Linked DNA regions of Homo sapiens: regions 2, 3 and 4 are each reported to be linked to region 1. Evidence: microRNA targets listed by miRTarBase, many of them from high-throughput screens and not tested one by one. Region 1 holds a microRNA gene; each other region holds the end of a gene's coding sequence.
Evidence for each region. Region 1 holds the annotated microRNA hsa-miR-1277-5p (AAAUAUAUAUAUAUAUGUACGUAU, at 4,975-4,998, opposite strand). A microRNA usually pairs through its seed, bases 2 to 8, with sites in the 3' UTR of a target mRNA and lowers its output. Matches are read on the target gene's strand: a 7mer-m8 pairs with bases 2 to 8, a 7mer-A1 pairs with bases 2 to 7 and ends in A, and an 8mer does both.

Region 2: miRTarBase lists CAPN5 as a target of hsa-miR-1277-5p. The part of its 3' UTR that is shown has no 7-base or 8-base seed match.
Region 3: miRTarBase lists HMGXB4 as a target of hsa-miR-1277-5p. Seed matches in the 3' UTR shown: 7mer-A1 at 3,307-3,313.
Region 4: miRTarBase lists RTN4RL1 as a target of hsa-miR-1277-5p. Seed matches in the 3' UTR shown: 7mer-m8 at 1,443-1,449.

What each region holds. Positions count from the first base shown.
Region 1 is chrX:118,384,280-118,391,398 of GRCh38, reverse strand. MIR1277 (microRNA 1277) reads right to left here and starts at 5,005; the gene lies at 4,928-5,005. WDR44 (WD repeat domain 44) reads right to left here. Exons shown (of 20, transcript NM_019045.5): 3 at 3,985-4,059.
Region 2 is chr11:77,122,717-77,129,811 of GRCh38, reverse strand. CAPN5 (calpain 5) reads right to left here. Exons shown (of 13, transcript NM_004055.5): 13 at 3,657-6,124. The coding sequence ends at 5,942. It overlaps MYO7A (myosin VIIA), which reads right to left and starts at 1,566. Exons shown (of 49, transcript NM_000260.4): 1 at 1,323-1,566. RefSeq lists enhancers at 1-711, 1,434-2,157, 2,158-2,880.
Region 3 is chr22:35,292,468-35,299,586 of GRCh38, forward strand. HMGXB4 (HMG-box containing 4) reads left to right here. Exons shown (of 11, transcript NM_001003681.3): 10 at 525-647; 11 at 1,140-3,340. The coding sequence ends at 1,184. It also overlaps a transcript of TOM1 not described here. Among named protein-coding and RNA genes, the nearest start is that of TOM1, 3.9 kb to the right of the region's middle. RefSeq lists an enhancer at 7,002-7,119.
Region 4 is chr17:1,930,103-1,937,213 of GRCh38, reverse strand. It overlaps RTN4RL1 (reticulon 4 receptor like 1), which reads left to right. Exons shown (of 2, transcript NM_178568.4): 2 at 1-2,537. The coding sequence ends at 718. Among named protein-coding and RNA genes, the nearest start is that of RTN4RL1-AS1, 84 kb to the left of the region's middle. RefSeq lists enhancers at 4,432-4,996, 4,997-5,562.

The DNA of each region.
Region 1 (7,119 bases):
TTTTTCTCAAACTTCAAATTGTTAACCTTAGAAATTACCTTGCTTTCACCAAAACTAACCAGAGTCCAACCAATTTGTCAATTAGGTGGTTACTGAGCACTGAGAACCTCAATGATAACAGTGATAACAGAAGTCATATTACAATGGATTTGAGATTGAATAAGAGGTGAAGATACAGAGACATTAGCACGGTCTGAGTTTTCAAAAAGCTTAGCTATAAATGCAAAAAGACTTCGATAAAGTGACCCAGCACTTTTATAACCTGAAGGGAAGGAACTACTGGAAAAGAAGATAACAGAGCAATGTTCTGGAAAAGAAAGGAAAGAAGGCCTACTGTGTATTAGACCTAGTATACACATTCTCATTTAATTGTCATACAGGCCTTTGGGTTAGGTAGCTGGATTACCTCCCTCCTAGAAAAGCAGGACTCTGAGGTAAAGGCTTTAAGAATTTTGCCAGTCCCACAATTAGTAAGCTACAAAGCCAAAACTGAAATCCAGGTCTTACTTAAAAATCCAGTGATCTTTGTATTATACCACACTACTTTGGACAGAAAACAAGAATACTAAATCTTCAGTGATGGATGACATGAAAAAAAGGTAAGAAATAACAATAAATATGTAGGTAAAGGAAGTGAAAGATGATACAAAGGAATGGATTCAGGCTTTTTAGCCTCTAATATTTACGTGGAGTAGGAAACAAGGTTATCGGCTGAAAGTGAGGGGGATGTGAGTGGGTACAGTGAGCATGAGGTGAGTATAAAGGTTTGAAATAATCACTACACATAATGGAAATGTCTGTGCCACAAGAGGGGTCAAAATGAGGTTGAAAATGCATCTTCCCCAATCCCTTATCTGATAATAATCTCTCCCTCCTCTGCACTTCTATTATTATTCTTACTGTTCAGTATAGTATGAACTATAATACAAATACAGAGCTGTATATAGGCTAGCTCTATTTATTTTCTCTACACCAGATAATTAGTACCTGGAGAGAAAGGTCCATGTTTTTTGCCTCTTGATATGCCTCATGACACCTTCTTATGGTGCCTAGCCCTGTCATTTTTTTCTGGATTTTAGGAAATAGTGAAAACGGAAAGACTAAGAGAACAATGAGAACCAAGACACACATAGAGATGATTATGCTAAAGCATTGTTTGCTGCAAAAAGCTCACTGTGACCGGACACGGTGACTTATGCTTGTAATCCCAGCACTTTGGGAGGCTGAGGTGGGCGGATCAACTGAGGTCAGGAGTTCAAAACCAGCCTGGCCAACATGGTGAAACCCCATCTCTACTAAAAATACAAAATAAATAAATAAATAAATAAATATAAAAAATTAGCCTGGCGTGGTGGTGTGTTGGTGTAAACCCAGCTACTTGGGAGGCTGAGGCAGAAGAATTGCTTCAACCCAGGAGGTGGAGGTTGCAGTGAGCTGAGATCACACCACTGCACTCTAGCCTGGGCAACAGAGCGAGACTCAAGTCTCAAAAAATAAATAAATAAATAAATAAAAAGCAGACAGTTTAGTATGACATAAGGCATTCCTATAATCCAGCCCTAACTTTGCTCTCTAGGCTCATCCTCAAATGTTCTGCACATTCCCCACCTCCATGCCTTCAGTAATGCCTTTCCTCTCCCATCTTAGCCTGGCCAAATCCTTTTTTTTTTTTTTTTTTTTGAGAGGGAGTCTAGCTCTGTCACCAGGCTGGAGTGCAGTGGCGCAATTTCAGCTCACTGCAACCTCTGCCTCCAGGTTCAAGCGATTCTCCTGCCTTGGCCTCCCAAGTAGCTGGGACTACAGGGACACGCCACCACGCCCAGCTAATTTTTGTATTTTTAGTAGAGATGGGGTTTCTCCATGTTGGTCAGGCTGGTCTCGAACTCCCGACCTCAGGTGATCCGCCTGCCTCGGCCTCCCAAAGTGCTGGGATTATAGGCGTGAGCCACCGTGCCCGGCCTAGCCTGTCCAAATCTTATGCATTCATTAAGAACCAGCTCAGATGCTACCTCCTCCATGAAGTCATCTTCATTCCTACCCCCAAGCAAGAAGTCTCCTTCCCTTTGTGTTCTTACAATAGCTTCTAAGTTTATTTGAATACTTACTGCATTTAGTTTTGTGTTTATCCAATTTCTTCTACTAAAATGTAAGTTACTCGAGAGCAGAGTATGCCCTCGTCCAGGGTATATCCCCATAGCCTTTATCATTAGTGATTCATACTTAATTCAACTGAAAAGGCTAGAACTTAAAAAGTGATTATTTAGAATCTTAAACCTCATTCTGCTCCACAGTGTTTTCTCACTACTGTTTAAACTTCTAAACTCTCCTTAAAATCATCTTTTTTCCCCACTAACTATAGATAGTTATACATTTGTTATTTATCCTAAGAAAAACATTCTTTAAAAAATAAGAAAAGCTATAGTGGAAAAAACAGGAATATTTTAAGTTTCAACAATAAAAATGGCTAGATAACATTGTAATCCATTTACTTGATGGAATCTGATGCATCTGAGTACAGAACTCATATAGAAGTATGAGGAAAATCTAAAAATGGTAAGAGTAAAAGACAGAATATAAAATTCTACCTACACTACAATTAGGCAGAAAAATGTATGCTAATGGATGAGGACCAGAAGGAAATGCTGAAAAATCAAGACACCTGTGTGTTATAGTATAGAATTATAGGCAATTTCTTATTTTTTTAAAAAAATGGTTCAATTCCTGTTATGTACACTGCTATGCAATCCACCATTCGTCCCAAAAGGGAACATTTTTCCTTTAAAGGAAAAAGTATGATCAATATCAAAATATGTGGTCTCGCTGGGCACAGTGTTGCACACCTATAATCCCAGCACTTCGGGAGGCTGAGGTGGGTGGATTGCCTGAGCTCAGAATTTCAAGACCAGCCTGGGAAACATGGCAAAACCTTGTCTCTATAAAATATACAAAAATTATCCAGGCATGGTGGCATACACCTGTAGTCCCAGCTACTCAGGAGGGTGAGGTGGGAGGATCACTTGAGTCCAGGAGGTGGAGGCTACAGTGAGCCATGATTGTGCCACTGCACTCTAGCTTGGGCGACAGAGTGAGACCCTGCCTCAAATAAAAAAAAAATGTAGTCCATTAAATTTCTAAATTCCATAAGGATAGAACAGTGGTTTTCCATTAGGGGTTATTTTGTTCCATACCCCTTCCCAGACATCTGGAGATATATTTGGTTGTCATAATTGGGAGTTGAGGATGCTATTGGCATTTAGTAAGTAGAAGCTGGGGATACTGCTAAAACATCTTACAATGCACACAACAGGCCTTCCCCTACCCTCTATTAGCCCAAAATGTCGAGTGCCAGTACTGGAGAAACTCTGGGGTGGAGAATGTGTCATTTTGTTAGCCTCTGGAAACCCACTGGCTAGAACATTGCCTAGGGCACAGAAAACACTTAAAACTTGTATAAATGAATAAAAACACACCATCCTGTCTTTCTCCTTGAGTTTTATCCTGATACTGTAAACTGCCCATTTTCAAAATACTGATCTTGTGCTCAGTCTCTTCTAGTAAACCAACCTTTGAAGCTTCATAGCATCAATTTTTTAAAAGGTATCAGGTACTATCAGAGTAAGGACTTCTTATAACTTCTGATTCCTAAAGACATCAGAATGTTGCTGCACTGAGCTTTTCAATACCCATAACTCCTGGTAGTAACCTCAAGAAGAGTTAGGGCTTATTCTGATAAAAATACAAGAACAAAAAATAAAAGCATTTTACAAAATATTGTCTCAAGGATAAATTACCAATTAGAATATGAAAAGGACTTCTAAAAAGACTGAAATGTCTTCAACCACAAATGTGACAGATTCATGAAACATTTGCTGAACATCAGCCATGTACAGAGCGCTATACTAAAAGAATATAAAAGCTGTTTGAAATATACCATATAAATATGATGTCTGCTATAAACTAATATTGACATTGTATCTTTCCAACCTTTTTAGACACATCTTGTTTCAATTCTTGTACAGGGGACTCATTTCCAACTTTGTATGCAGTGTTCTCTGTTTCCTGTTTGAAAAAGAAAAGAAATAGAGACCAAATGATGACATCTTTTCTTTAAAAATATGCTTTAAAGGGGTACAAATGAGAAAATGTAGCATTAATAAATCAAAGGCCCTTAAAGGGCTTTGATTTCTTCTTCTTCTTTTTTTTTTTTTTTTTTTTTTGAGACAGAGTTTTACTCTGTCACCCAGGCTGGAGTGCAGTGGCACAATCCTGGCTCACTGCAACCTCTGCTTCCCGGGTTCAAGTGATTCTCCTGCCTCAGCCTCCCGAGTAGCTGGGATTATAGGCGCGTGCCACCACACCTGGCTAATTTTTGTAATTTTAGTACAGACAGAGTTTCACCTTGTTGGCCAGGCTGGTCTTGAACTCCTGACCTCAAGTGATCTACCCACCTCAGCCTCCCAAAGTGCTGGGATTATAGGTGTGAGCCACTGTGCCCAGCCTAAAGGGCTTAGATTTCTGAATACTGATAGATGCTCAGAAATTTTATGCCAAATGGGACAATGTAATTTGCATAAGAAAGTTACCCATCAGCAATATTCTATTATTCTGCAATAGGATATTTACCTTTAAATGTGAAAACTTGCTCAACTTTTTAACATTAAAAAACTGTAATGGACGATAAGAACTTCTACGTACTTTTATAGCTAAAAAGGATTAAGGATTTAAGCAAGGGGCTGAATAAAAATTGTTATTTTCCCCAAAGCATTGCTCCATAAATATGCACAAATACAAAAGTTTATAACACAGAAAACCACATTCAGGGAATAGTTTTCTTAAAATTCTACATGCTTTAGATAAAAGAAATCAAGACTTAACCAGAAGTTAAATGAAGCCCCTAAAAAAACTATGAAAAAAGATGAAAAAAATTAAACCCACCAAAAATACATATATATCTACGTATACATTTATATACACATACGTACATATATATATATATTTGGGAGGTTAGAAATGGATACTGCATTTCTGCTGGAAAAAATTAGGGTAAAATAAGACAATCATATATTTGCAAATCTCAATACAATACTCTTCTCAATCTTAAGTTGTCTATTTATAGAAGCACAGCAATTTGAATGCTACTCTTGATACTGAGGAAAAAAAACCATAATTCTTTGTGCACATCACAGAGTTTGTTAGAGGAAGGTCATTATAACCATTTTAGACAGATAAAGGACTCAAGGCACATTAATTATTTAGGTGGCACTTATACAAGTATCAGGATATGATCACAATAGGCTCAATAATGAAATTACTCCAGAGATTATTAAAATGTTAAAGATTTAACGTGCCAGTGAAATTTCTGTAGGACTTGCAATATCTTCGAGCACTGAATTCCTCCCCCAGAATTTGGAGAATACTACCAATCTTACACAGATTCTTCTAGAAAAAAAAAAATGTTTCATGGACTCTTAAGTATTAGATAAAATCCAAACAGTACCAAGGCCCATGAAGGCCTAAACATGACATAGCCTCTGCCTACATTTTTGATATCTTCTACACTCCTCATCTCCCTCTCATATCACTCCCCCACAATTACATTCTGGCCAATAGGATGATTCCTTGCCATTAGGGTCATAGCTCAAGTGCTATTTTATCAGAAAATACTTCCCTGACCATCTCAAAATAGCCTTAGCTGACTCCTTAACTTTCTATCACATTATCCTATTTTTCTTTTTTTTTTTAACTTTAAGTTCAGGGGTACATGTGCAGATTTGTTACACAGGTAAACTTGTGTCATGGGGTTTTGTTGCACAGATTATTTCATCACCCAGGTATTAAGCCTAGTACACATTAGTCATTTTTCCTGATCCTCTCCCTCCTCCCACCCTTCACCCTCTGATAGGCCTCAACATGTGTTGTTCCCCTCTATGGGTTCATGTGTCCACATCATTTAGCTCCCACCTATAAGTGAGAACATGCAGTATTTGGTTTTCTGTTCCTGCATTGATTTGCTAAGGATAATGGCCTCCAGCTCCATCCATGGCCCTGCAAAGGACATGATCTCGTTCTTTTTTATGGCTGCATAGTATTCCATGGTGTATATGTACTACATTTTCTTTATCCAGTCTATCATTGATGGGCATTTAGGTTGATTTCATGTCTTTGCTATTGTGAATAGTGCTGCAATGAACATGTGTGTGCATGTGTCTTTATAATAGAATGATTTATATTCCTTTGGGTATATACCCAGTAATGGGATTGAGGAGAGGATGTCAAACTATCCCTGTTTGCAGACAACATGATCTTATATCTAGATAACCCATAGTCTCAGCCCAAAAGATTCTTAAGCTGATAAACAACTTCAACAAAGTCTCAGGATACAAAATAAATGTGCAAAAATCACTAGCATTATTATACACTAATAACAGCCAAGCAGAGAGCCAAATCAGGAATAAACTCCCATCATTTGCAATTGCCACGAAAAGAAAATACCTATGAATACAGCTAACTAGGGAGGTGAAAGGAGAACTACAAACCACTGCTCAAAGAAACCAGAGATGACACAAACAAATGGAAAAACATTCCAAGCTCATGGATAGGAAGAATCAATATCGTTAAAATGGCCACACTGCCCAAGGCAATGTATAGACTTAATGCCATTACTATTAAACTACCACTGAGATTCTTCACAGAACTAGGAAATTTTATTTTAAAATTCATAGGGAACCAAAAAAGAGCCTGAATAGCCAAGGCAAATCCTAAGCAAAAAGAACAAAGCTGGAGGCATCATGCTACCCGACTTCAAACTATGCTACAGTGCTACAGTTACCAAACAGCATGGTACTGGTACAAAAAGAGACACACAGACCAATAGAACAGAATAGAGAATACAGAAATAAGACCGCACACCTACAACTATCTGATCTTCGACAAACCTGATGAAAACAAAGAATGGGGAAAGGCTTCCCTACTCAATAAATGGTGCTGGGAAAACATTATCCTATTTTCCTTCATTGCACTTATCGTTCGAAATGACCTTATTTACTTGCTTATTTTTTGTCTCTTCCCTGTCCCACTAGAATGTAAGCTCCATGAGAGATGGACCTTGTTTGTTCTATC
Region 2 (7,095 bases), not on the chromosome of region 1:
CCTTCTACCTGAAATTTTGACTAGTGAATTTCCACTTATGGTTCATGGCTCAGTTCAGATGATACCTCCTCCAGGAAGCCTTCCCTGACCACTCCCAAGCTGCCAAGAGCCTCTATATTCCCCTTTATCCCATTTTGACTATATGCATTATGTTGTCAGGGTAAGGGTCAGTCCCACCTCTGCCCCCAAAGTTGGCGAGTTGATCCAGGGCAGGATGTGGCCAATGGGAGAGGGTCTGAGACATTGCCTTGTCTCCAGCCTTGTCCAGCACAGGGCCAGACCCAGAGACGGCCTCAGGAAGGAGCTTAAAAGGCAGCCCCAGCCTACAGACCCTGGTATGAGGCCCCTCTGGCTCCCAACCTGTCTCCTAGAATGCGCATCAATTTTTCACAAGGGCCCATTCAGAGCCGCCGGGGCATTCGATCCTCTGCCCATGACACTGCCCGACATCCGAGCCCTGACCCCTGCCCTGGAGCTCTGGGACACAGCAAACCCACAGTCCTTCCAGAGACCTGAACTAGTCTGGATGCCTGGTGGAGATGTGGATTCAACAGGGCCAGCAGGCAGTTGCCACCGGGCACTTGTCTGAAGATGGTGCCCAGGCTGTGGAGCAGGCGCCCTATGCCAGCATGAGCCATGAGGGCTGGGGGCAGAGCCAGTGCTTTCACTAGAGACATGGGGCTCCAAGGGATGGGGGAGAGTGGTGAGGGCGTGAAATTTAAGGGCCACATTTTAAAATGACCAGACAGACATTTCATTTCTAAAAATGAGAACTAGACCACCTTCAAGTTAATTTCTTTTCCAACTGACAACAGGGGGCATAGACTGTATTTGTATTTCTATGTCTATACCTGATTTTACCTCTTCCCCACTACAACCCTGGCTGTTGGGGCTTCATACTCCCATTTCACAGATGGGATATTTGGGGCATAGAGGAAGGAAGTGACTTATCCAAAAACGGAGATAAAGAGTGTCAGAGAGAAAGCAAAGGAGACAGAGAGAACGGACTCTTCTCTCTGCCACCACAGCATGTCTATTCCCCTGGCCCCAGGATGCCACTAACCCCAGCCCCAGCTCAGAGAAGATTCGATGGACAACATGCTCCTTGGCTCTTCCCTCCTCCAGGGGACACACATCCATCTTCCCAGGCTCGGGACAGTTTCATTCAGTGGCTGTGGTGGCTGAGCCCTCAAGGGTGGCAGGAAGCCCAGTCCCAGGAGCAAGTGGCTGTGGGGCAGAGGCTCTAGAGGTAGCTCAAGTCCATGACTCCTCCACATCCAAACCCCTCCCAATGCCCAGGACAGTGGGCAGCCCATCCTTACCTGGGGCCCAGCTGCCCACTCTCAGTGACCTGCCAGCCTGGTACAGCTGCCACCTGCACGGAGGACTCAGGAAGCTGGGTCACGGGCCCAGCCAGTCTGCAAACACACGTCCCCTCTTCCTCTGTCTGGCTCCAAGTCTCGTTCTAGGCGTCCCTCTGGGTCTTTCCCTTCCTCGCCGTCTCTCTGTGTGTGTCTCTTGTCTCTCCCTCTCTCTCCTGCCCAGAGCAGCTGTCCAGCCAGCACTGCTGCCCTCCCCTCCTCACTCCAGAGCCTTCTCCCAGGAGGCGGAGCCGGAGGGGGCCTCCAAGGTCTGGGTGCGGTGACATCAGCGTGGGGGACGGGCCGTGCTGGGGCTGGGACTAATGTCCAGAGGCTGCTCAGGGCTCTGTGCAGAGCACTGGCTGCCGACAGGGAGGCGGGGTCATTGGGGTCTGTCTCTGGCTGTGCTGCTGAATGCACCGCACCTGGGCGTGGGCCCCCCAGGCTAGCTTCAGGTGCCTCCTGTTGTTTGCAGGACACCGCCTGCTGTCTCAGCACCTGAGCAGGAAACCGCACCTGATCCTGACTTAATCACTGATGTGCTGGGGTCTCAGCCCCATTTCTTCCTCCTCTACCTGGCTGTTTGGGACTCAGAGAGGGAACGGTCAGGCAGAGCATGGCAGGAGGGAGAGTGCTGAGCTAAAGCCCTGCCTTCTGCGCCTTCTCCCTCCTGCACACCCACCCTTGCCTCTGATGTGTGTTCTCTGACGCTGGTCAATGCAACATTGCCCCCACAACCTGCTCTGCGGGTTGGGGACACATGTTATTCCGTAATCATCCAGAAACTTTGCCAAACCAGCTGACTGGGAGCCACCCCACGTGTGACAGCGACACAGATAAACTGAAGTGAAATCTGTGATTTAAAGGAGTGGGGGGAACCAAGCAAAGAGGAGCACACGTCTTTGTTATTAGCGTTGTCGAGGATGGAGACCTCGCGCGGCCCTATCGGGACATGACAGTTTCTCCTTTCCGCCCTCGGCAGCCACGCAGCTGTCGGCGGCCCCATAGTGCACCTCGCCAGGGCAGCTCTGGGTGGCAGAAGGATGTCTCTTTTGGGTCCCTAGCCCCCATAACTGGGGTGTCTGCAGGGAAGCTGCCCAGAAGGTGGGGTGGGGGCCCAAAGGGGCGCTATAGCTCGCCAGCGCCGCCTGCTGGTCACAGGCCCCACTGCCCAGCTGCTTCCGTCAGGCGGGCTGAGCACCGCTGGGAAGTGACCGTGACAGGAGTCAGCTTCTGCTAGGGCCTGGGTCCCCTCAGACCCGACGACCCTGTCCCAGGAAGACCCCAGGATGCCGTCTGCCCCTTAGCCTGCTGGCCTAACAGGAGTCCAGGAGTCCCTGGAACACAGTCCCCACCTGGGATTTGCACCTGCTGCCGAAACCCAGTACTGGCCACTCCTCAAGTCCCCCCTCTCCATCCTCCCAGGCTGGGCGGGGCCAGTGGCGTCAGCCCTACACGGATGGGGAAATGAGACCCCGGGGGAGCACAGGAGAGCCCATGGCACACGACTGGCAGCAGGGACAAAATGCAGTGAGCTGTGGGAATGGGGCAGAGAGGTGGGCAGGTTATGGGGGACAGGGCGGCCTCCAAACACCAGGATGACAGCTACATTGTGTTCAGCCATGCTATGAACCAGGCACTATGCTAAGCAGATCACACGATTTGCAATACCCATTTCTCAGTCCCATGAAGAAAGCGAGGCATCTCGGTTCACTTTGCCCTCACACTGCACTCACCCCGTCTCCCAAGTCGTTTTTCATTGAGTCGTCCACTCTGCTTTCAGTCATCCCAACCCTGCTTCTCCCCACCACCACACCAGCTTCCTGGCCCTAGATGCCTGCATCTGCCCTCAGCAGCCTCCGCTCTGGTCCCCCCACACCTTCCTGTGCCCCGAAGGCCCATCTCCTCTTCCCAGCCCTTCATGCACAGATCAGGGAGTAGGCCGTCTCTAACCCAGCAGGCCCACACTGCCCCATCAGTAATGTGCGGGGTAGTGTCTGTCATGACCAGAGTATGTCTTTGTTCTCGCTGCTCGTTTGTAGACTGTCCCAGAGCAGGGATTGCTATGCCTGGTTCCCCACATCCCAGGTGCCCGGGGCAGGCCTTGGCACAAAGCCAGCCCCGTACAGATCTACTGAATAAAGGAATGACTGAATGATCCCCACAATCTCAGCTCACAGGTGCACCGGGCAGGCAGCGGGGCCTTCCCTCTGACCAGCGGACAGTCGCCCAGGCCTGGGGAATATTCCTCCATTGTCCCTTCCCCCCAGGGGGACAGAGGGACACAGGAAAGTCTTTTTGGAATTTTGTAAGATTTATTGAGAATAGAACAGGCTTCCTGTCCCCTAACCCTGTGGTGGATCCTGAGAAGAGGGAAGCCTAGGTCTGGGTGGTGTGGGCTGGAGGCCCTACCCACCTGCAAATGGGGACTCCCAGGCCCCCGCGGGTGCATACAGTGAACAAAGTAATTGCTCTCCCCTATCACCCCTGATCCTTACCTGCCTGGCCCCCAAGGTCTCCTGGGGACCAGAGATCCCTGCATAGCCAGGAGCCAGCCTGGCCCACCTCAAGGGGCAGGAAGCAAGGGTAGCACTGTGGAACCTGTTTTTGTCAGGGGGTGGCAGGCATGCCCCGGCCCCGAGGCTGAAGCCCACAGGTCTGCCACTTGGTCCTGGTGTGCCCCTGTATCCCAGGGGACATGGCTGAGCAAAGTCCTATGTGTTAGCCTGAGGTGCAAGCTGGCTCACTTCACCCCCTACTCAGGAGCCTTGATTTGAAATAGACATCGAGAAGTGGTGATTACATGAATGTATATATATATATATATATATATATAGTGCGTGTGCATACAGAGATACATAGAGAAAGGGGTATTATTTTGCCCTTACTCAGCACTCGGTAGTAACAGTGCTGACACACAAGAATCATTGGCCCCACTTTGTAGAAGGGGGAAATCGAGGCACAGGAGGTTTAAGTGACTTGCTCCCAGTCATGCAGAGTCCCGGCCCCAGGCCCAGGTTCTTGAGGGGAAGTCCCGGCTTTCAAGAAAGAACACTCTTATCCTCCTTGTCGTTCATTTCCTGGCCCCTCATATGGCCCAGGGCCAAGACCCAGGAGCAAAGCCAGACACAGAGTGAGGAGGCAAAATCAGAGAATCCAGCACCTCCAGCCAGAACACTGATCCAGACAGCAGGATCTGGAGTCGGAAAGTCAGGTTCCCAAAAGGAAATCCCAGCAAGGACACAGGGATTCCTGTTCTTGAATTAACTGCACTTTTTCATTTGCTACACCTGGTCTGGAAGCCCGAGAAGGGCACAGCAGAGATCCCAAGTGGGTCACGGCACCAGTGCTCACGAAGAGTTCTCCAGAGGACCAGCAAAACTGGAGCCAAGAAGAAAAATGGAGGTTCAGGCTTTCAATTTTCTTTTAAAACCCCTGATTAAAATTGAGATTTTCAAAACAAAAAGAATATAAAACATTGAGGACTAAAAGGAACATTTTGGTCTGGGCAGGAAGAAGAGCACTGCGGCCTCCTAGGCTGCATTTTGGGGGAATGTTGGTGGGGGGCTGTGGTCAGGTGATGGGGCTCCCTATCTCCTGCCGAGCCCAGTGGGTGGCCTGACTCTGGTGAGCACCACACACCCCAGAGTCCCATCTTCCAGGAAAAGCTGGGGTCTTACAGCAGAGAGGCTCTGGGAGCACATCTCCCCTTCTGGTCCCCAAAGGCCCCCAGCTGCCTGGCCCCTGGCCCACTAACCCAGGCATGCTCCTTCCAGCACTGGGCAGAGGAGTCAGGAAGATGCCCTTCCTCACCCCCACTGACGCCACCTCTCCAGGGACCTTAACGCAGGGGCTGGGAATGGAATCGGAAGCTAGAATGAGCAGGCAGCAGCAGCTCCCCTAGGTATCTGCCTCTGAGAGGACCTGAGGACAGAGGCGAGGCCCAAGGCAGAGGCCGGAGTAGGGCCCCGCTTCACCTGGGGCCTCAAAGGTGTCGTTTATTCATTTGGCAAATCTCCACTGAGTGAGGAAATGGATGGGTGAGAGGATGGGATTAGAGAATGAACAAATGTCACCTGCATATTTTCCCAATTCCAGCCTGAGCAGGAACCCGGCAGGAGCCAAGAGTCCTTTCAAGGTGGGAGAACACCAGGTATTGCTGATGGGGAAAGTGAGGTCTGGGAGGCTGGGTTGGGCCTAGGACACGAGGGGCAAGAACGGAGCTTGGGGATGTGGCAGTTCGTGTGTAAACAAGTGACATCTTCTTGGCGCTCCTCGGCAGACAGCAGGGCCTTAGGAAAATGTGCTCAATGGATAGAGTCCCTTAGCAGTGGTGACAGTTGAGGTGGGGAGGACTATTTGAAATCTCAGCAAGGAAACTCCTCCACGAGAATGGAATGCTTCGGGGCCCTCGGGACACTGAGGCTGAGAGAGGGGCAGAGACTTCCTAAGGTCACACAGCAAGTCAGTGGAAGAGTGGGAAAAGGACCCCAGTATCCTGGCTCCCAGGCTAGACTCAGGCCCAGTGGGGACATGCAGATGGTGGTGGGAACGGTCAGAGCCAGGTAGGTGGGCAGGTGTCAGACAGCCATGAGGGAGGTGCTGCTGAGAATGTGCACGGCCACAGTGCCTGGCAGGTTGCTGGGCTGCCGGCTATTTCGGTCCCGGAGGTGGAGGGTATGCAGGGCCTGGAGGTTGTCCGGGTCAGCCTTTAGGTGCACCTGGCCCAGAAATTCATCCTTCAGCACTCGGTGGTTCCAGACCTGGGAAGAGACAGAGGATCATGGGAGGGGCGGGCTACCTCCAAGACCAGCAATATAGGTCTATGGGGGGTGCTGGTGGTGGTGGCAGGGCCTTGAAGTGCAAGCCTGGCTGAGGATCGGGGGCCCTGGGCTGTCTGCCTCCCCATGAACTACGGGCAAGGTGGTGCCCCTTCCAGAGCCTCAGGCTCCTCAGCTAGCTAAGCTCCCTCCCATGCATAAAGTGAAATCTGTTATTAGCTCCGCTGTTGATCTTGGGTGAACTTGGACAAGCGGTACACCCACTGCCCTAGTTTCCCCATCTTTAATATGAAGGTTGAGTCAGCTGCCCCTAGGGGTCTTTCCAGCCCTGAGACATACAGGTCTGTGATTTGATCCAGTGGGACTCAGTGTTAAGAAAACTTGGATAAGCCACAGTGGCTCCCCCAGGGGGACCCAAATGTTTGTTTACAGATGCTGTCTCACTGAGAGAGATGCTGATCAAGGCCTGGGGGCCAGAGAGCTCCCTAGTATTGAGTTCAGAATCATCATCCCCAGGCCACATCAGCCTGAGAGGAGAAGGAAGCCATGGGGAGGACACTGGCTTTCTATCCCCTGCCCAAGGCTCTTGGGAAACAGCCACACGCACCACACAGTGGCTCAACGCCACTTTCCAGGTGGGCCCCCCACGGGGAAATGGGAGGGATAGTTCCCAAAGCTGAGGGTGAGGTCAGCAGAGATGACTGCTGTCCCCAGCCAGGAGATGGACCCTGCTGGGTCTCAGGACCACACCAACTAATCCAATTCACCCACCTACAGAGGGACCTTGGAGTGGCAAGAGAGCTCCCAAAGCCACACCAGGGGTCAGGGATAGACAGACAGCTAGAGCCCAGCATGCCTGGGTCCTCGTCAGAGGGTCTTCCACCTGGGCTTGTCCCCCTGAGTGGGGAAGCCTCAGGCTAGGAGCCCAGGAGGTGGCCTCTGGACCAGGGGGC
Region 3 (7,119 bases), not on the chromosome of region 1:
CACAAATAGACAATATGAATTACATAAAATGTTAAAATTTGAACCAAATTCACTTTGAGAGTGAACAACTCAACCTAGAAAAATTGTATAATCAGCTATCAAAAGCTACATACATGCAGGGTTGTAGGATTCTCATAGTAATCACATCTGAGCTATATTTGTCGAGTTTATAACAGATATACTTTGCATACATAATCACAAATCTTACCAACAGCTCTCCAGAGTAGGTAAAGCATTTTTTACTGTTCCTGTTAAGGAGACAGAAGTTAAGGATGTGAACTCCCCAAGGTCACTCAGAAGGTAAGAAGATGGGCTAGGATTACGGAAAGGGAACATGGGAATGTGCTGTAAAAGTTTTCTTTCTAAACAACTTACAGAGTTATCAAAGTAAACTTTCCATTTCTGCTGTAAAGTTTCAAATTATAAGAGTAGAACTGCCTAGGATTTAAAGTACTGTGTGAGGAAGTCAGCCGGAACACAGCATCAGGAGTGTGACTCAAGCAACAACCTCCTCTCCTTTTCAGGGTATGGTGGCTGTGTCTGGCAGTTTGTCAGTGCTTCTGGATTCCATTATCTGTGCCCTTGGCCCCTTGGCATGTCTCACCACACAACTACCTGAATTGAATGGCTGTCCCAAACAGGTCTTGGTGAGTTTTCCCTGGATTTTTAGAGTCAGATCCATTGGGCGTCAGAGATGCCCTGCCTTAATGAGCACTGTCAGACACACATAAGGCTTTGTGACACACAGTGCTTCCTTCATCTGTTGGCCCATGGAACATGATGCTATATTATCAAATGCATGCTGTACTTTCACTGAAACTAGAAAACAAGCCATTTACCAAAACAGTACTTAAGAAAGCAGCATTCTAGCCCTTGAGGTACTACAATTCCTGTGTTTCCTGTTTGCTATTCTGCACCCAAAGACAGTACAGGAATTGTTTCCCTCTTTTTTACGAGGATTAATGGGAGAAGTCAGCAGAAAAGTTCCTAGCATAACAAACAGCAGGATGCCGTCTTCATTCTCACCTGTTTTTCTAACTCCATTTGATTTTTCTTATCTCTCTCCTTGAACAAAGAAACATCTCTCAGGAAACCAAGGTACAGTACTCTTCAGTTGAACATTTTTCTTTGTTTTGCAGTCAAACACATTAGACAACATTGCTTACATCATGCCGGGACTGTGACAGCAAAGAATCCTGGGACAGAAACCTTATCCTACACCATTGCTGGTTTGTGTATATATGACTGTTGCAGATTCCTTCAGTGGCCTCTGGCTGTAGGTTTTAAATTTTTATATCTATACATACATATATACATATATATATAATGTACAATATATACATAGACTGTAACTACTTTGCTTTTAATAATTTTATGAAATGGCAAAGGTTTAGCCAAGAGGAAATTTTGGCATGAATACAGGCTTGGGATTCTTTTTTCTCCTGTGGTGGATAAATCTGCCTTAAAAATCAATGTAACTTGGGGGCTGGGGGCTTGTTCTGGGTGCCAAGCGCATCTCTTTATGGACAGCTAAAATGTGATTATTTTCCAAGCTCAGTTGGACCTCCAGACCCATCACTGACCATTTGCCTTACCTGTCTTAGTCTGAAATGTAATAGGAAAGATAACGGGAAGATGCCAGTTGACTGAAAATTCAAAGCCTTTCAATTTGAAGTGACCTAGGTGGGAGGTGATAAAATTTGTTCCCTTTATAGTTATGGAAGTGGCTTAGGTGAATTGAGTAGAGGGTTCATTCCAATTCCTACTGTATAGGTGTCTGTGTCTCAAAATTTATTGTAATCATTGGTACCATTGGTGGCCTCAACAGAGGCCAAGGAGTTCTGTGAGCCCTGGCAGCAAAAAACACCTTGGGGGGTGAAGCTGTCAATGCCACCAGTTGGACCTCCATACATTCTGAGCTAACCCAGAATCTTTAGTCGGCAGAATTAAGTGCTGGTGTCTTTCACTGGCAGCATGAAGTTAGCCACCAAGTCCTCACAAGCCGTGCTGCTTAGTTGCTCGGTGGTTATGGATAAACTTTGCCCAGCATGATTTTTGGGTTCATCTTATCAGTTCCCCTGGTGGGCAGATACACAGTGTTCTGCATTCCACATGTAAGTGAATTGCAAAAACAAAACAAAACTCACTCTCTTGTAGGTTTATTTATGTGTGTGTGAATGTGTATTTTAATTATGTGTATTTAACTCTTTAAAATCTCTTAGATTTTAATTTATCCTGTAAATTTCTGTATATATAATTTAATAACAGAAGCCTCCACCAGCAACAGCATGTGGAAGATACAGATTTGTCATTTCTCCCTTCCGCCCTCCCTTCTTTCCTTCCTTCCTTCCCTGTTTCCTTCCCTCTTTCCTTCCTTCCTCCTGGTCTGTTCCAAAAACTCTGAATCATCTACATTTTAAGGTATTTTACCTCAAAAATGAATCATTGTGTTAGGATTCTAATTCTTTATAAAGAACTTCATGGGCTTCAATAATGTCTAGAAAGTAAAATAAAGAGGAATGTTACCATCCCCAGCTGCCCTTATTTCCAGAGAACCAGACGTTTGTTTCCCAGTTGGAAAGAAGACAGTTGAGCACTTCAGGATGGTTTTTAAATTTGGTATGAGATTCTCTGCCAACACCAAGCTCTGAGTTAACTGTGCTTTCTTCTCCTGGCCCTGACAGAGCACTACAGCATCAAAGTAAATCTTTGGGGACAGTGTAGCCCATCTGCATCCTATTTAATTTCTTCCCTTCTCCCCACCAGTGTTGTCACAGGGCTATGTTGCTTAAAGGTAGTCTGGCTGCTGAATCCCTTTCTCAGCTCAGAGCAGTTTTAAGATTTAATTGGGAATACAGAGAAACAGGATTGTTTGAGAACCAAAATCAAGAGGAACAGAAATCTTAACTTGATTTCATGTGTTAGAACATTGTACCATGCCTCTTCTGTATCTGTGGAAGTTTCCTGTTTGACACAGGGTATCTAGGAGGGGCGGGGAAGACATGGATAGTATAGGAAGACATTAATCCTAGCATTGTCATTTATATACATTAATGAAATCCTGATGAGGACCTGCTTTTTGTTTGTTTTCCTTTGAAACCCAGCCCTATTGTATTTGTATTTAAAATTTGTACACATTTGTATAATAATCTGTACCTTGTGGTATTTGGTACTATTAGAGGAAAAACTTTGGATTCAGACCTTCTTGCAGTTTTTATATCATTGTTTTATTTTGTTTTTTAAATAAATTCTAGTGGTTTGATCCAAATCCCATTACAGTTGTATAAAGAAATAAAATTTTGTACTTATATTATTAAAAATCACATTTTTAATATTTGTAGTCCAGTCTCAGCTGTCTTTTCCCTAATCATGATCATCATAGTTGCTATGAAATTATAAAACCTGTTTTTCACTCTATTCTACCATAATTTTCTTAAGAAAAAAATCAACCCACAATGGAGATTAAATTTCTAATCTTAGCCATTTTCTTAATATACTCCTTACTCTGCTTCTATTAACTTTTACATTGTAGAGGTTCTCATTTTCTCTTTTGCAAATTGCAAATTTAGTGAATCTGATAATTCCACCTCCATTTATTGGCAAATGAAACTATGTGCATTATGGTGTTGGCCTAAATCAAGAAAATGTTGATTAATCTTATATAAGGGTTGCATCTGAATCATGTGCTAAATGATATGTTTCAGTACTGTCCTGTTAGCATTACAGTAATGCTGTTGATAAGTTACTTAATCTTTATAGGCTTCCAAAGTCCCATCTATAGAATAGTGTTAAAGTCACTTCCCTGTCTGTAGACCTGCAGCCAGCCAGCCTGACATGAATGTTTAATAACATTATGAACACTGAATATATGGAGATATGACCTTTCAAGGTAAAAACTTCAGTGCAAACACAAGGTGTTAAAAGTCATAAATAGTAAAATAATATGATTAATTACAAGGCTAATGTCTTATGGAAAGGCAGCAAGGAAGAGACTACCGTATCACTGAGTGACTATTAGAGTGATTTGCATACTTTGTCTCACTCATCCTCCGCCCAAAGCCTTAAGAATATTATCTCCCTTTATAGATGCGAAAAAGTACTTTTCCTAAGTTTATACTGCTAGTAAATGGCAAAGGCAGATTAAGAACAGTGAAACAGCTGACCCCAAACCCTAGGCTCTTTTCTACCCCAAGCTACTTTCAGATTTAAATCATGTCTATAATTCATCAGAATGCTTTCCATTATCTCAAGTCCTGAGCGAATGTGATTGTGGGAATGCTGTCTCAGATCTTTGCATTGTTCGGGTATCTAGCTGGCTTTCACTCTTGTCATACTATTGTCTTTAAATTTTGAAGGCAAGGTATCTTGATTTTTGTCTGTAAGCACTTAAAGGATTTAATAGATTACATTTATGCAGACTGTCAATCTTAAGAAATTTGAACATTTTAACCCTCAGTAAGGCATGATATTAATTTTACTAAAACACTTAAAAAGTAAATTGAAACACTTTTTACTAAATCAGTTTGCTCCTTATTAGCACACTTTTTAAAGACAGTTTTAATCAGTTTTGTACTAACTTTAATGTTTGCCATTTACATCCCTATCTACTATGTTGATAAAATCCATATACTGGCCAGGTGCAGTGGCTCGTGTCTGTAATCCCAGCACTTTGGGAGACTAAGTCAGGAGGATCATTTGTGGCCAGGTGTTTGAGACCAGCCTGGAGAATATAGCAAAACCCCATCTCTACAAAAACTAAAAGATATTAGCCAGGTATGGTGGCATGCATCTGCAGTCCCACCTACTCAAGAGGCTGAAGTGGGAAGACACTTGAGCCCAGGAGATCAGGGCTACGGTGAGCTACAGTTGTACCACTGTACGCCAGCCTGGGTGACAGAGACTCTGTCTTTAAAAATAAATAAATAAATAAATCCATATACTTCCATTTCTGTTTCAATAGCTATATAGTAATCAGTTTGCATGGAGTTGTTTTTCTTTTTTTTTTTGAGACGGAGTCTCGCTCTGTCTCCCAGGCTGGAGTGCAGTGGTGCAATCTCTGCTCACTGCAAGCTCCGCCTACCAGGTTCACGCCATTCTCCTGCCTCAGCCTCCCGAGTAGCTGGGACTACAGGCGCCCACCACGGCGCCCACCACCACGCCCAGCTAATTTTTTCTATTTTTTTAGTAGAGATGGGGTTTCACCGTGTTAGCCAGGATGGTCTTGATCTCCTGACTTCGTGATCTGCCTGCCTGGGTCTCCCAAAGTGCTGTGATTACAGGTGTGAGCCACCGTGCCCAGCCTGCATGGAGTTTATGATTCCACTTCCTGTTTGGGGGCATATGAGTTGTCTCTGTTTTTGTTTTTTTTTGTTTTTTTTTTTTTTTTTTTTTACCATGAATAAAGTTTACAAGAACTTGTTAAAAGCTTAAAGGAAGGGCCAGAGATGGTGGCTCATGCCTGTAACCCAGGGCTTTGGGAGGCTGAGGTGGGAGGATCACTTGAGCTCAGAAGTTCAAGGACCAGCCTGGGCAACATAGTGAGACTTTGCCTCTAAAAATAAATAAATAAAGGTTAATGGAAGAATCCAAAAGAAGTTCATGCTAAACATAACTCCATATGACCAAGCAATAAGGTTAAGTGAAGAAAGACATGGAAAGTGCCTTGACCTGAAGGTCATCTTAAATGGCCTTCTCCCCGCTTATACTCCAAATACCATTACTGAAACGTAGATCTATTTAAGCTTTCATGTGCTAGTTACTGGGTTAGACAATAGTGGGGAGCAAAACAGAAATAGTAGCCCAGCCCCCAGGGACATCCAGACTCGTGGGGGCAAAGGCATTTGTGAACAGGTCTCATGAGTGTTGTGGAAACACTTCAAAGCAGTTTTTATATTGTACAGTAAAGACATCGGACCCCATGGCTGCTCAAACAAGTGAATCTACAGAGGTGATTAAGTTCTAATTTAGGTTTGTTTTTTTTTTTAAGACACAGCCTTACTCTGTCACCCAGGCTGGAGTGCAGTGGCACGATCTCAGCTCACTGCAATCTCTGCCCCCCTGGGTCCAAGCAATTCTCATGCCTCAGCCTCCCAAGTAGCTGGGACTACAGGCGTGTACCACCACACCTGGCTAATTTTTGTATTTTTAGTAGAGACGGCATTTTACCATGTTGGCTAGGCTTGTTTTGAATGCCTGACCTCAGGTGATCCACCTGCCTCAGCCTCCCAAAATGTTGGGATTACAGGCGTGAGCCACCACACCTTGCTTAATTTAGGTTTTCTGTCATCCAAAATTTGTGCAGTCAATTTACTAGCCTTTCAGATTTAAAAACCACAAACATCACAATAAGTACTTAAGCACCCACAGTAGCCAGACTACTAAGGCCATGGTTATTGTATTTTTGGAGTACATGCCAGAAGAAAAGGTCATAACCCATAGATAGGTATCTAGTGTGTAGGTGTCAGCAGACACACCACACACAGCCAGGAAGGCTGAAGAGATTAGAATCACAACGCTGGGAAAGGCCTTTGAGATTCTTAGCTTGGGGTCCACGGTTGTACTTCAGGGACCCCAGAAACTCCCTGAGGTTATAAGCAAAATTGTATCGCTGCCTTTTTTCTTCAGAAAGGCTCATGGCTTTTGTCAAATTCTCAAAGGAGACTGTGACCTAAATAAAATATTTTTTAAAAATGGTTACGAGTCCTTGATCTAATTCCAGTATCTAGAGAAAATGGGAGCTATGTTTGGCTCACACAGTAAATTTATGGCAGAGACGGGTATTAAAGCCCCACTCGTGACTACATCTGTGCTTTTTGCCATCCTGGGCGCTAGAGGGAATTGCGCTGCAATTCATTAAATTGCCTCTCAGTCTCAACAGATGACAAACCCCTTGCCCTTGCCTCTGATTTAAGGTAAGATAATTTGGGCTGCGAGCAGGGTGCATCTTGGAGCGGGGAGACCTTGACATCAAACAGGAAGAGTCTTACCGGGACAAGGAGACAACAGCCCAGAGAGGCTGTCACCCAGGGTAGGTGTGCAGTCACAGTGAGGTCCCAAGGACTAAGGGCTATGACCCTAAGAGTCTCGGCTTCTGTGTAACTCACCCAAGTCACTTCCCTG
Region 4 (7,111 bases), not on the chromosome of region 1:
GCTGCACGAGAACCAGCTGCAGTGGGTCCACCACAAGGCGTTCCACGACCTCCGCAGGCTGACCACCCTCTTCCTCTTCAACAACAGCCTCTCGGAGCTGCAGGGTGAGTGCCTGGCCCCGCTGGGGGCCCTGGAGTTCCTCCGCCTCAACGGCAACCCCTGGGACTGTGGTTGTCGCGCGCGCTCCCTGTGGGAATGGCTGCAGAGGTTCCGGGGCTCCAGCTCCGCTGTCCCCTGTGTGTCCCCTGGGCTGCGGCACGGCCAGGACCTGAAGCTGCTGAGGGCCGAGGACTTCCGGAACTGCACGGGACCAGCGTCCCCGCACCAGATCAAGTCACACACGCTCACCACCACCGACAGGGCCGCCCGCAAGGAACACCACTCACCCCACGGCCCCACCAGGAGCAAGGGCCACCCGCACGGCCCCCGGCCCGGCCACAGGAAGCCGGGGAAGAACTGCACCAACCCCAGGAACCGCAATCAGATCTCTAAGGCGGGCGCCGGGAAACAGGCCCCCGAGCTGCCAGACTATGCCCCAGACTACCAGCACAAGTTCAGTTTTGACATCATGCCTACGGCCCGGCCCAAGAGGAAGGGCAAGTGTGCCCGCAGGACCCCCATCCGTGCCCCCAGCGGGGTGCAGCAGGCCTCCTCGGCCAGTTCCCTGGGGGCCTCCCTCCTGGCCTGGACACTGGGGCTGGCGGTCACTCTCCGCTGAGGACCCAGGGCGTCAGCACCCAGCACTGCCACATGTCCACCAAGGAACAGAATTTATTTTCTTCTTTTTTTAACAAGTGGAAGATCTGCTGGGTTTCAGGAAAAGGCTGGTAGAGCCTTCGGCTGCTGTCTGGACGTCTGGACCCTGCCATGTGGATTATAAACCCAAAGTGTACAGCCCTAGGCGGGAGGGGGTGGCGCTTCTCAGCCGGCTGTCCCAGCCAGCCCCGCAGAGCGCCCACGGACAGTGTCCACTCTGGCAAGGTGGGAAAAGGCACTCCAAGTGCATCCTCCACTGGCAACAGTGGGACAATTGCCCCCGACGGCGGCACCGGGGCTCTGTGGAATCCCGATCGTTCCGAGAGGTCTGGAGGGCCCCGTGGTTCCTGGAGAAAGCAGGACGCAGAGAAGAACAAATGAGGCTCACCCACGAGGCTGGGTGGCCAGCAGTCTGGGCACACACGAGCAGGTGGCATCTTGGCTCTTGCCTGAGGCCAGTCACCCTGCCCTGAATTCTATCCTACTCCACCTTCAGCCCCTCCCTCGGGGGTAGCGCCTCTCATTCCTGATGTCTCAGGCAACCCTGGCAGACCCAGGTCCAACTGCTGGGGTCCAAGAACCAATTACCAAAGGAAAGATCATCAGAGGCTGAAATCTAGAACTTCATCCCGGGCAATGAGGTTCTCACAGAAGGTGCAGTTTTATAACTAACTACGTCCACTTATATATATTCACACTCTACATATATATATATATATATATATATATATATATATATATATATACACAAATGCACAGTCCCCCTCCCACTCCGTTACCTAACTGTACGTCTTTTCATGTTTATAAACTATACAGAAAACTGTATTTGCTGAACTAAGGATTGTATTGGTGATTTCTAGCAAAAACAAAGTGATAGAATTTTTGTCTAGAATCCCAAACTGGCAACGATAGTCTCCAAGGGACCTGGCCTTGCCAAGGGCCTGGGGCAAGGTGTCGGCGGGACGGTGAGGAAGGGGGAGGCAGCAAGAGTCACTTTGGGGGACCAATATTCTTAGATATTTAGAGCATCACCTTGTTTTTATATGCAACACAAGCCTGTCTGCCACCCTGGAGCGCCCTGTCACCCCTGCTGTCGTAGCTGTTGGCTTCAGGGTGAGAAGTGAGAAGCAGCTTATTGTATATGAGGGAGCCAGGCCCCGAGGGTGAGCGAGATGGAGAAGGGGAAGGAAGGGGCTTTGGGATCTGGAAACCAGCAGGCCAGGCAGCATCCACAGTGTTAGTCCAAAGGGTCGGACCGTGTCGTCAGCCTAGCGTTTGGTCAGTGACGGCCTGGACGGGCCAAGGAGACTCCGGGCTTGAGCCCAGGCCTCCCGCACGGCTCAGCTGCTGAATTTTTCCTTGAGGCTGTTTGGTGTGTGACCCAGCAAGGGCCCTGTGTGGGACAGCAGGAGGGAGGCGTCGGGGGCCTTAGCAGAAGGGGAACAATGAGGGCATTTCATGAACCATCTCAGGCACTTCTGCATCACGGAAGACCTGGCCCTCCCAGCCGTCCTGGGGATGCTCAGGGTGCAGGCAGAGGCTCGGGAGGCCGGACTCAGGGGTCAGAAGCAGGGACTGGGGCAGGCGAGCCCGGACAGGGAAGAGGGGCTCCGATCAAAGCCGGCCGTGCTGCTGGCCGGGGGCCCAGGTGGGTACAAGCTCCTTTGTGCTTTGCACAAACCTGAATCCCCCACCAGAGAGGATGTGTGTGAGGAGCCAGAAACGCTGAATCCAATTAAGAGAGAAAAATAATAATAACAATAAATGATCTTGGACAAGAACCCTGTTTTTCATTTCCTAACCCCGCATTCCCGACAGGTGGCAGATCCTGGGCTTCTGTGGGTGGGCGAGCCTGGCCGGGCACAGCTCTGGGAACACAGCACATTTGTTGGCGGGAGGAGCCGCAGGGGGCAGGGGCGCACTGATTCACGGGACACATGAGAGCACGCACACCCTGGTGCTCCGTTTCGTGGCACTTCCCTTGCCCGCACAGATCATGATTCACTTTCCACATTCTGACTGCCCCGGGTCGGCACCATCTCCGTGGCTCTCCCCGGAGGAGGCTGGTCCTGGGTCCTTCCTGGCCTATTCCCGGGAGTCTCCGGAGCAATGGCTAAGTGACTGATCCTCAGGGCGCCCGGCAGGCGGCTGGTGGGGACGGGCGGCTGCAAGGAAACAGTCAGTACCTGGGGCCCAAGGAGTTTTCCAGGAGGCTAGGGACCCACCCGGACAGCTGTGGGTGGGCTTGGAGACTGCACACGTCTCTCTGGCTTCAGAGAAAGGAGAGGGTTCCCCGGATAGAGGGAGGAAGGCTGTGTTTTCAGGCCTGGCTGGACAAATCCTCCTCAGTATGAGGCTTGGGGCATTCACTAAAGGGAGCCCAGTGACTGCAGACCAAAGAATCCTCAGCCTGCACCTGCTCCCCTGTGGCCTGCAGGCTCTGACCCAGGCCGAGGTGCTAGGGCCTGGCTGTCCCTTAGAACCCAAGGATGTTGTTGTGTTGTTGATTTCATTTCCAGCTTCAGACAGCAAGGCCCTCAGTGGGAAAATCAAGAGTCTAAGCACTTTATTAATTTTTTTTTTAAAAAAAGACTTAGGAAGTCCTGTAATATGGAAGTGAAATGTCAGTACGAGAAATGCTAATGTTTTATAAATGATCCGCTTCTGTCAAGCACAGCACAGTCTCTGGTTGCCGACTGTTATTAGAGGCAAGGCAGTGGGGGCCCAGGACGCCAGGTATTTTTAGCAGCTTTCTCCTCTAAGAGGTAGGGGGAATCAAGGCAGCTCTGTTGCAGACGACATCAGTTGTCACTCAGCAGCTCATGCTACGCAGTTATGATGACACCATCGCCCCAAACATCAAAGCAACTGGACGCGTCAGGGGCGAGGCAAAAGCTTCTCTATTCGCCAGCTCCAGCCCCTTGCGTCTGGTTCAGGGCATGGAGATGCAGATTCCTGTGGTCTTCCCAGAGGCGGGGGCCACCCCTCCGCTGCCATCTTCCCACTTTCCCTGGACCCCCAGAGGGAGTCATCTCTTCTCCCTCCCAGCCCTCCTGCCACACAGGCCTCCACTGTGGACTGATGGGGACAGAGCCACCCCTGTTGGAGGGGCTGGGTGGCCACTGGTGGTCTCCACTGTGGACTGACGGGGACAGAGCCACCCCTGTTGGAGGGGCTGGGTGGCCACTGAAGGCCTCCACTGTGGACTGATGGGGACAGAGCCACCCCTGTCGGAGGGGCTGGATGGCCACTGGTGGTCTCTAAGGCCTTTCACACAAGCTCCTCCCCTGACCCCAGAGCTTGGCTGGCTCTGCATAGTTCATTCAACAAGGGCTGATCAGGGACCTCCGTGTCCAGCCACTGGCCAGGCTCTGGGGACATAAACGTGAGAAGACGTGGCTCGGGGCAAAAGGAGCTCAGAGCCTAGATGTAGAAACAAGTATTCGCAACTGGTATGGAGTTGGCGCTTGTGGTAGCACCCCTCGGCCCCCAAAATGAGGAGCTCAGCTGGGTGGGGGCAGTCAGAGAGGGCTTCCAGGCAGAGGTGACACTCCAATGAGTCTTGGAGGATGAGGAGCCACCCAGAGAAGAGTGTGGGGAGTAGGGCTAGAGGTGGTAACAGCACTGTGTCTGGGGTATCCACAAACCACTCCCAGCTGAGGGCATGGGAGACGCGCCCTGTATGGGAGCGGCCCAGGGGACTCTGCTCAGGGACTCCACTCTGCCGTGGAAGTGGAGGGGCTGTGCGGTCCCCCCGACCTGGTCGTCCTCCCGCCCACCCCCCCCAGCCTGTCCATAGGCACGTGGTTTCTGACCGTGGCAACCTTGCCGCGGTTCTTCAACAGTGGGTTTCATGGTGGAAACTTGCCTCCTGGGCTCAGCCAGATCCTCCCCTGGTGCCAGCAAGCTGGAGCGCTCGCTGGAAGTCTGCCTGGGCCACAGGCCCATTCCCAGACACCTGCTGCTTCCAAGCTTGGGAAGCATTCCACGGCCTGCGCTCCCTGCTTCCCAGCCGCGGCCGCCCTCAGCCCCTCCTGACTTCGGAGCAGCTCAGATCACCCCGGCGCTTCTGCCTGTGCGGGCTGTGACCATCAGCCAGCCCCAGAGCCCCTCCCACCAACCGCACCCCTCCTCTCCTGCCGGGGCTGTTCTTTGCAAAAGCCAAGAATCCCATTTAGCAAATGTTTACTCATCACCCAGCTAATCACCAGCGCTCTGCCGCCACGGTGAATGGGCTCCAGGAAGGCCTGTGAGCAGGTTGGGGGGAGCGGGAGAGCCCGGGAGGCCTCGTGGAGGGCAAGCTGCAGGGACTGGGGTCAGAGGGAAGGAGTTTGCTGCGGAGGCTCCCTGGAGCCACCGAGCCCTCAGCAAATTCCCCTGGACATGCACGCCCGCTTCCCAGGCAGGCCCCACCAGCCCATGAGCCGACCCACCTCTCTGCCAGGGACCCAGCTCCTCCGGGCCCTACTCTATGCTGACCTAGGGAGGCAGTCTTTCTCTGCGTTTATTTGTCCTACTCTATGCTGACCTAGGGAGGCAGTCTTTCTCTGCGTTTATTTGTAGCCTCCTGAGGCTCAAACAATCCTCCTGCCTCAGCCTCCTGATTAGCTGGGACTACAGGGACACACCACCATACCAGGCTAATTGTTTTATTATTTATTTATTTATTTATTTTTTGAGACAGAGTCTTGCTCTGTCGCCCAGGATGGAGTGCAGTGGCGCGATCTTGGCTCACTGCAACCTCCACCTCCCGGGTTCAAGCGATTCTCCTGTCTCAGCCTCCCAAGAACCTGGGATTACAGGAGCAAGCCACCGTGCACGGCTAATTTTTGTATTTTTAATAGAGATGGGTTTTCTCTACATTGGCCAGGCTAGTCTCGAACTCCTGACCTCATGGGATCCACTTGCCTCAGCCTCCCAAAGTGCTGGGATTGTAGGTGCGAGCCACCACGCCCAGCTAATTTTTTAACTTTTTAGTAGAGATAGGGTTTCACCATGTTGGCCAGGCTGGTCTCGAACTCCTGACCTCAAGAGATCCGCCCACCTCGGCCTCCCAAAGTGCTGGGATTACAGGCTGGGCCAGCGCACCTGGCTGGTGTTCATTCTTTGAGGAGGGGTGGGTGCATGCTTTGATGGAGTCCCTTCCAGCCCCCGTTCTGAAGCCTCCTGACCCGGTTCAGCTCCCCGCCTTGCCCTCTAACTTCACTTTCCTCTAAGCAGGAGTTCAGCCATCAGCCGCGACTCCATCCCCATCACCAATCCCCCACTATCAGCTCGTAATGGGCCAATTTTCTTTTACCTTCTGTCTACTTGGAAAATATCTCAAGAACCTTTGATTGTGCGTTAAAATATCCTTTAGAATTCTATGCTCGGTATCTTTCTGCTCCTCTAATTGTCCCTTTTAACTCACCGTGCTTTCCGTATAAATCTCCCGGTCTCCTCCTTCCCAGGCTGTTAATAAATATGAGCTCTAAAAAAATACATAAACATCTATTGTTGGCTAAATAACTCACGGCACAATCAAAAAGCCGGGAAAAGAAGAGAGGCTCGGCGCGTCGCATGGCCACCTGAGCACCCTCCCTCGCGCGGTCCTGCCGGTCTCTCCAGAGAGGGCTGCTGAAGGCAGGGGAGTCTGGGCCCTGAAGAGCCCATGAGGTGAAGGGACCCTGGGGGAGAAAAGGAAGCGAGGCAGAGAGAGTAGCTGTACTACCAGGGGGACAGGGCTCTCTCCAAGAGCGCCGAGTGAGGGGTTTGGACAAAGGAGACCCTCGTGCAGGGAGCAGCGGCTGGTTTAAGTGGCATTTCAGTGGGCTGGCCGCCAAGGCCCCTCACCACCACAAGAAGTGGGTCAGCCTCCTCTGACACCAGCGCCAGCCCACAAGGAGGGGGCCCGCCCCCATCTCTCTCCTCTCTGCCCTCATTTCTCATTAGAGCCGTTAGTTTCTAAGCTCCAGGAGGGTGGGGAAGGATGTGCCTTTGTGTCACCGATTCCTGTGTGGCAGCGTGCACACTAATGGCATGCCTGAACGGCAGAATTTGACATTGCTGCTGCAAGATGTGCTTGGGTCACAGTGCTTTCCAAATTGGCTGAGGCTCCACGCCACCCCCCTCCTCCCTCACCCAGGCGCCTCAGAGCCCCCGCCAGCCACTGCTTCTGCAGCTCCCTCTGAGGGCCTCGGAAAAGAGAGAGGAAGCAAGAGATGTATTAAACTCTTCCATCTCTGTAAGCACCATTTCCCAGGAGACCGACTCTAAGGAAGAAGGAAACACAAGTGCTGGAGGCCTACACAGGTAGGAGGTTGGGAGGAGGCACCAGGCTTCGTGTCTCCTCTCCCCACCCCCGGTACTGCTTTGG